2 linked regions of the Homo sapiens genome follow. The protein of the gene in region 2 interacts with the protein of the main gene of each other region in a pairwise test. Each region holds a gene or a part of one and is shown on either strand. Other genes may lie near its edges.

What was found. Proteins that work in one complex are often made in the same cells at the same time.
Region 1: the proteins of BTAF1 (region 2) and DNAAF6 interact in a two-hybrid assay, tested with the Homo sapiens proteins (one large-scale study listed by BioGRID).

What each region holds. Positions count from the first base shown.
Region 1 is NC_000023.11:107,220,111-107,223,610, reverse strand, and holds part of DNAAF6 (dynein axonemal assembly factor 6), read right to left. Parts: intron 867-3,500; coding exon 770-866; intron 1-769. UniProt on the Homo sapiens protein: Plays a role in cytoplasmic pre-assembly of axonemal dynein.
Region 2 is NC_000010.11:91,925,858-91,931,488, reverse strand, and holds part of BTAF1 (TATA-binding protein-associated factor 172), read right to left. Parts: intron 108-5,631; exon of another isoform or gene 1-107. UniProt on the Homo sapiens protein: Regulates transcription in association with TATA binding protein (TBP). Removes TBP from the TATA box in an ATP-dependent manner.

The DNA of each region.
Region 1 (3,500 bases), on a different chromosome or scaffold from region 2:
TTCCTGATCTCAAAAAATAAAATTTTAACACAAGAATTACTTGTTAATGTTGCTAAAATGAATCAAATTCCACACTCTGGGTTAGGCCCAGATTTTTCAACAAGGTCATTATCAGGATGAAATAAGCAAAAGTAAGGTGGTATCATTGATATTGTTGGTATTGCCACAACTGTTATACAGAAACAGTGACCTGGTAAAGGATGCTCTCCAACATTCGGTAGCGTCATTCAGATAAGAAAGCAAAGTAACATTTTAGATGTCTTTCTTAGTGTTTTTAATCAGAAGTCAGATCCCAAAATTAAGAAAATCCCTTTTTAAGTCCCACATTGTAAGCTGAGTCATTACGAGAAATACAGAAATAAGAGATAAGACAGATGCGGGGAAGGAGATACTTCATTCTGATTGCCTGTCAATTCATCATAAGTTAATAACCAATCAGTTGGCATGCATGGGACGGAACTAGGATGGAAGAAAATCCAGTCCAATCCAATTGGGAAGTTTTAATAGGGATAAAAATAGAAATTGTGTATTGTGTCATATGATTCCATTATGTTTATTTGTAAATCTCATCCAAATGTGTAAACTTAGTTTATTTTGTACAAGTTAACAATTTTAAACTGTCTATCCCATTGTTACCCTAGTACGTGAAACATAGCAACCACGATTTTTAAAGAGTTTACAACCTTGCCTACAATATTATGTAAATAATAGTCAGTCAATTTAGCTACAATGGTTGTATAGAAAATGAAGAAGGGGAGGAGAGGCTTACCACTAGTTCACTGCAACAACCTGTTGAGGAGTCCTTTTTTGACAACCCTAAAAATATATCTTCAGTTCCCACCTGCTGTCTGAATATAATCTCATACCTGAAAAAAAATCAATGATTATAGGGACTCAGATGAAAGAGCAATTTCCTGTCACAGAAAAGAAAACTAGTAACTTATGAGGATATGCTATTAGGTAAAATAAAAGGACTAAACAAATAAAGTGCTTGCAGGTCTTCAGGCATATAATAGAACATAAAGGAAAAGAAGTCTAGAAATGTGGTCAAAATAAACACTGAAAGGCAGGATTGTTATTATTTTCTAAAATAAAGCTTTAACTGTTTCAGAGCTAGACAAATAAAATAGATTGAGGGAACTTGTAATAAGATTCTAATAAGATTAAAAGCAGAAGAAAAAAAAGGAAAGTCTGTTCCTGAAAAACAATAGCTCAGAAAAATACTGAGTCCATAACCTAGGGATTGATAGAAACCTTCCTCTGCCAAGTTTAAACCACAGAGCAGAGGAGAAAATTCAGGTTTAGTACTGTTTCTGTCATTAACTGTGGACCTTGGTCAAGTCACAAACTCATGGGGTCTCAGTTTCTACATTTGTATGATTTATGGGAGGGAGGGGTGAGTTTGAACTGAATGATCTCCACGGCTAAAATTCTACAATAGAAACACTGGTAATGTAGTCAGCACAGCTACACCATAGTGCTTAGAATCTAGTCTTACAGAATTCTGAGTGTAATGAAAGGTTTTCCTGATATTTCACCCCACACATGACAATTCACAAATCATTCCTCCCTCCAAATTTGGGCCTCCAGGAATACAATGGTTTATAGAAGCACCCACCACAAGGTACCCCATCTCTTCAGATAGAATGAAACAAATATTTACAAATTATTATTATTATTATTATTATTATTATTATTATGCTTAATGCTACCTTAATGAAGAAATTGTAGATCTCTGGATAGTAAGACTAAAGGACTTGATTGAACTTCTGACCATTTGCCAATAGGAATGCCCAAAAATAAAAAAGGGATTTCTCTGAGTTTGAACATGGCTAACAATAAGCAGCTATTTGCTATGGGGCACTTTTCTCTTAATAGGCTATAACATCTACCAATTATTTATGAAGGTGAAGCCAGGTTAAAACAAACAGAGGATTGATCTATATGTTCATTGCTCCTAATGGATTTGCTCAAGCTCCTGCTCTTATCCTGAGCTCCAGACGCAATTTTCCAACTGTCTACTACAAAGGTTTGCCTGGATGTCCCAAAGACAACTCAAAGTGTACATATCAAAAACCAGCTAGTCATGGTGGCTCTCAACTGTAATCTAGTGCTTAGGGAGGCTGAGGCAGGAAGATTGCTTGAGTCCAGGAGTTTGAGACCAGCCTGGGCAGCACGGTTAGACGCAGTCTTCACAAAAATAAAGTGTGCACCTGTAGTCCCAGCTACTTGGGAGAGTAAGGTGGGAGAATTGCTTGAGCCCGGGAGGTTGAGGCTGCAGTGAACAATGGGCGGGGCCGGGGGGGCGGTGGTTGGCGAAGAAAAAAAACAAATTTGGTTGGGCACTGTGGCTCAGGCCTGTAATCCCAGCACTTTGGGAGGCTGAGGCAGGTGGACTGCTTGAGGCCAGGAGTTCAGGACCAGCCTGGCCAACTTGGTGAAACCTCGTCTCTACAAAAAACACAAAAAACATTAGCCAGGCCTGGTGGCATGCACCTGTAGTCTCAGCTACTTGTGAGGCTGAGGCAGGAGAATCGCTTGAACCCGGAAGGCAGAGGTTGCAGTGAGCCGAGATCACACCACTGCACTCCAGCCTGAGCGACAGAGCAAGACTCTGTCTCAGAAAAAAGGAAGAAAGAAAGAAAGAAAGAAAAAGAAAGAAAGAAAGAAAGAAAGAAAGAAAGAAAGAAAGAAAGAAAGAAAGAAAGGGAGAAAGAAAGAAAACAAAAACAAACTCACTGCTTCTTCTTAACCTATAATTCCTATCAAAGTTAATGGCATTATCATTTCCTCAGTCACCCAAGCTAATAACTTCAGCATCATCTTTGACGCTCTCCTCTCATCCATTTTATCTAACCAAATACCAACTCTTCATCCAAAACTCACTCAAATAAAGACCCTCATACTTCTCCCCAAGGCCAGTGCCTTAGCTCAGCTCCTTGTTATTCTTTTACTTGGCCACTTGTGATTCTTCTTTTTTGAACTGCCTGTTCATGTTCTTTACCTATTTTCCTCTGCATCCACTGAGAAATGTTGAAATGTATTTTCATAAGGTAGAAGATGAAGATTTTTAAAATCTTATAAAGCAATTTTCCTCATAATAACCTGAAGTTATTATTCATTTAAAGCTTTCATGGATGTTCTATCTACCTAACATCAAACATCAGGATGAAAAGGGAAAAATTACTCAAATTTGAAGTTTGCTGCATATGGATATTTGACATTTGTTAGACAATATGACAAATAAGTGACTTAATTATTACTTTTCATATGATACGTGGACACTATATAAACATAACTTCAAATTTACTCTCTTCGTTCTCTAAGAAATGTTTTAAAATCTCCTTTGATTTTTTATGAGGTTTATGGTCTTGACATTGTTTATTTGAAAGCTGGATACTTCTTTCTAGTTAATTGTCTGCAGTCTCCCACTGCTTCTGTTTTCAGAACTTATGTAGAAGGCAGAAGCATGGAGTTTTTGTTTATTTGCTTGTTTTATA
Region 2 (5,631 bases):
CACACAGCTAGCAGGAAAAAGTAACATTCTTCATTCTCTGAAGGATAGACAGACAGATGGAGGAGACACAGGTAACAGATGTCAAGTTGCATGGAAGGTACCAAAGACTATAGAAGATAAGTAAAACATAAGAAAATTATATTTTGTAATATCCACTGGTTATAAATTTATTGAGAATAAGAAATCTGGCCCATTTTCAATCTGGATGTCAATTCCGAGAATTAGCTAAACAAGATATGATTCATGTAACCTGTGATTTCAGGCAACTGTTCTAAAGACTGCCTAGAAAAAGGAAAGAGTACATAGTAGTAGAGGTTATGCTAGCAGTTGCAATCTAACCCCTCTCCTCTCCAGATGTTTGCATTATGTTAATTCATAACAGTAAAGCCATAAAAATAAACAGAAAGAAATGTCATGCATTTTAAACAATAAAACATGTCCTAGATTACTACGTCATAGTTAATAAACAAATACATACTGTATTTCCACTCTAAAACATCTCGGGAGGGGAGGGGCAAAAAGCCTCACTGATATTTTCAAAATATATTTAACCTCTCTGATAAATTAGGAAAGGTCAACTGACAGAATACCTCAAAAAGACAGCTTTGTGGCCTTAACTAAAAAAGCATGACCAGTCAAGAGTAGCCATTTAGTTATACATTTTTTACACGTGGCAAAAGTACAGTAAAATTTTAAATATAGATGATTTGAATGTTTACTTTTCTGTGTTACTCAGGAAGTAAGGAAAGATAATGACCATTACTTAGTATAGTGTACAGTGTGTACTTAATACGTGGAACTTAGTACAGTGCACATATTATCATTAAGGTCAAAAGAAACAACTTCCAACAAATTCTCTAGTGTTTTTAAACATATACTTTCTAGGTCATGTTGTGGGTAATTTGAAACTATGTTAATGTTATGTTGTTTTAAACATAAAGATATCACACAGAACACTAAGAATCAATATGAAGGTGTGAAACCATACCAAAGCCAGGTGTAAGGGCAGGTGCTTGCTAGATAAGTTACCCCACTCTACCCTGGACCATAAACTCCATGAGAATGGAGAGTACAGTTTTTTTCTCTGCTATACCTCTAGCACCTATAACATAGAAAGCACTCAGTAAATATTGGTTAAATGAAGAATGGTGAAAATGTACAACCAAGCTATGCTATTTCCTTCAAGACATTTTTTTCTACCCTCCATCCCTGATCGAACAACCTATAGCCTCTTGCATGACTTTATCTTAATGACAAAACATAGTACATACTAATCTAGGTTCTTTAGCAGCAGTATGGGTGGTTTTAAAACTTCTTATTAATACATATTATGTATTAATATGTAAAATTCATAATACATTTTAAAGTGTATTTTTAAATGGTTAGAACAGTCTATTTTTATGTGTGTCACAATTAAAAAATTTTTAAAATAATAATTCAAACTAGTACCTTGAGAAATACGCCAAAGAAATAAGGAGGAATTTACCATTGGGATTGAAATGGAAAAGCTTTGATTAATGCCTCTTCTACTTTTTCTAGTTTATCTCTAAATTTTTAAAGTATGAGATATTTGATGAATTATAATTTACAATAGTTCCTTCTGTCATCTTATAATGGATTGAAATTAACAATAAGGGCCAGGTGAGGTGGCTCATGCTTGTAATCCCAGCATTTGGGAGGCCAATGCGGGAGGAATGCTTGAGGCAAGAGTTTAAGACCACCCTGGCCAACACAGAGAGACCTCATCTCTATTAAAAAAAAATTATTAAAAATAAATTAACAGGGAGGAATAGGCCTGGAAAACCTGTGTTGTCCTTTATTGGTAATTAAGGTAGTTTTTTCTACATTAACATTTTCCTGTCCAGGACCCACTGAACGTCCCCTACATCAAGAAACTTCCTTTTATTTGACAGAATAGGCCTGTTGAAACAATGTTGCTCTGAAGTATCAACAGTGCAAAGAGAAAATTAACAAAATTGAGCAAAGGTCTGCTATATGTAGCAATTTGTTTCTTCCACAAGAGGATGTGTTTTTGTTTTTTCTGAACCCTTTCTGAACACTGTAACATTTTCAAATGCAAAGATATGTGAGAAATCTAAGGTATGGCTTTTAAAACAGTCATATTATAAGTACTGTCTAGACATTTTAGACATGACCTTTACAGCACAGATCGCTGAGGGAAAACTATATATTTCTGAAACTTTCTCTAGCTGATTAAGGAAAAACTATGTTCCTATTAACTAGCCAATATACAATGATCAGTTCCATTAATTGTGGCATAAACAGGCAAAGGTAGCAAAAACAAGCTGTTTAAAAAATTGTATTAAGTCATGGTTCCCAACACAGCTACAGATTCCCCACCAATGAATAAACCTAAACCAGGCGCAGTGGCTCACACCAGTAATCCCAGCACTTTAGGGGCAAAGCCACGTGGATCACTGGAGCCCAGGAGTTTGCAACCAGCCTGGGCAACATGATGAAACCCCACTTCTACAAAATATACAAAAAAAATTAGCCAGGCATGGTGGTATGCATCTGTGGTCCTAGCAACTGGGGAGGCTGAGGTGGGAGGATCACTTGAGGCCGTGATTGTGCCACTGCACTCCAGCTTTCCAGCTTGGAGGACAGAGTGAGACTCTGCCTCCAAAAACAAACAAACAAACAAACAACAAAAATGCCAAAGAAATCCATCTCAGGTTGCTTTTTTTGGGGGGCGGGGGGGGGGGGGATGGATTCTTGCTCTGTTGCCCAGGCTGGAGTGCAGTGCTGCGATCGCAAAGGTTGCTTTTACCGTTGGTGGCAAAATCCCAACTAAGTAACACATGATAATGAGAAAAAGCCCCATAAAGCAAAATAATGGTGTTCAAAAATATAACACTTATTATTTAAATTATTCACAAGAAACACTGAAAGCCTGTAACATACACTAATTTGTTTTTTGCTGAGGTTGACTTTGTGGAAGCAAGTCAAGTAGCTAGTGAATGACTAGCTGACTTTCCGGCATCCGCATCTTAAGGACAACATTGTTCTCTACTCCTACATTTGGATTTTGGGTCTTTTACTAAGGGTTTAAAAGAGTCATATCATTTTCCAGTGATATTTCACTGGATTTGACAGAGAACTTCAAATGCTATGATTGTATTTACAATTTTAGAGAGTAACAAAGTTATTTTTGCAAGATGTAATTCAGCTACAGATCAAGAGTTGGCCATGCATTTCATAATCTGCCACATTCTTACAACTGAAAGTACAGTAAAACCAAGCCTATTAAGCAGGGTCTAAAAAATTTGACCACATAAAATACATCATATCAATTTTGCATTATAAATGGCCATGCTATCACAGAATTTACTATATTATAAACTTCAAAAATTATTCTAATTGCCTTCCTATAGGAGATAGCTTTAAAAAGAAAAAAATATTCCGATGATTGTTAAAATTAGAAAATGGCCAATATTAAAAAGCTATAGTGAAAGTTTTCCTTACTGCAAAAAAAAAAAAAAAAAAAGAAAAAAGGCAGTTAAACTCAAAAGTACTCACTGAAAAACACTGGAAATAGTCTACTATGCACAAATTACGGTAAAATCATACTCCTACAAATGTAGGAGTAGAGAACAATGTTGTCCCTAAGATGCGGATGCTGGAAAGTCAGCTAGTCATTCACTAGTTACTTGACTTGCTTCCACAAAGTCAACCTCAGCAAAAAACAAATTAGTATATGTTACAGGCTTTCAGTGTTTCTTGTGAATAATTTAAATAATAATTGTTATATCTTTGAATACCATTATTTTGCTTTATGAGGCAACTCATATGGCAACTCAAAAGGTACCAAAGCAAGAAGCAAAATCATTCATTCATTTTTTTTTTAAATGTACTGAACACCCACTAGGAGCCAGGCATTCTGAGCATGGAAAAATCAAAGACACATTTCCTTCTCTCAGAGTTTATGTTAATCCAGCAAGTAAGAGAACAATTAACCAATTACAAAATATAAATATTATGACTGATAGGAATATGTATTGGTGCAAATAGCTCAGATGAAGTAAAACCAGAGAAAATGTCCTGAACAAGGTAATATATAAGCTTAGATCAAAAAATTGAGGCAGGTGGATCGCCTGAAGTCAGGAGTTCGAGGCCAGCCTGACCAACATGGAGAAACCCCATCTCTACTAAAAATACAAAATTAGCCGGGTGTGGTGGTGCATGCCTGTAATCCCAGCTACTCGGGAGGCTGAGGCAGGAGAATCGTTTGAACCCGGGAGGTGGAGGTTATGGTGAGTCAAGAACGCACCATTGCACTCCAGCGTGGGCAACAAGAGCAAAACTCTGTCTCAAAAAAAAAAAAAATCAAACAAAAAAACACACTAAGGTCAGAACTAGCCATACCTGAGATGGGGCTAAGAAGTGTTCCAAAGATAAACAGTAGGGGGTAACAAAATGAATTCTGGGGAGGGTGGAGGATAGAAGAGAGAAGAAGGTGAAGGGGAAGTACAGAGAAGTTGACACAAGATGAATCTAAAAAGATGACACAGGAACCAGATCACAAAGGACTTGGTAAGATATGTTTGTTTGAGAATGTGGACTTTATCCTAAGGCAATAGGAAACAACTAAAGGTATTAATTAGAAAGATTACCATGTTCATGTTCAAATCTTCAAATCAGTAAATAATATGACTGAAGCGAAGAACAGATTGAAATGAGATGCCATGGAAGGCAGGAAAAGGAGAGAGGCTCCTGTCTTGTACTAAACATGTCCAAATACCAAATACATTGATACATAAACTTACTATGAGACTTATCAGGTGATACAATGTTCAAGGAGATGAGTACTTCCTTTCCTAGGGTTGAGTGTGTATTTTCAAAAGATTGGATGTAGCTTTACAGTGACAAAAGGGAAGCGTCTCTCTAAAGGTGTCTTGGACTAGAGATGGTGGCATGTTCTAGGATTGTGGTAACTGGTATAGAAAGAAAAATGATCAGCTGGAGAAAGATTAGAAAGGCAGAATATACAGGATTGGATTTGGTAACTGGCTGGACATGGGGTGTGGGAGGAAAAGGGAAGTCAAAGAACATTCTCAAATTTCTTGACCAGACAATTGAGGGAATAATGGTACTAACTTACTATTTCCCATCTGTTGGAAATTCTGGTGGAAATGTCCTAAAAATATTACAGTTTCTCTTCAGTTATGCATATGAAATAAACAGTGCAAAAAATATTTTAGATTTGATTTTAGCATATGATTTTTATCTCCTGGGCTATTTTCCACCTATTTTACGTAAAATAGTATTAAAATGAGTCTGCACCAACAGGAGAGAAAGGAAGTTTAGTTAGCACAGAACTGTGCTTCGTGCATGGAGAAGGCCAGCTTGAAACTAAAATTTGCCATTCAAAGAAATCCACAGGTGAAAAAGTCAAGAATTGACACTATCCCCAAAACACACAAGTGTCTCAAAATGTTTTCCTTGGGCTTACTACTGAGCCCAAGGAAACTAAGCACAGAAATAGCTCTTCCATAAAAACATGACAGGCTTTTAAAAAAGTGAACGAGAAAAAAATCCACAGAAAAAGAGTGCTACTCTTTGAAACACAACATCCAGAACAAAAGACAGTACCTTCAAAACCCACTCAGT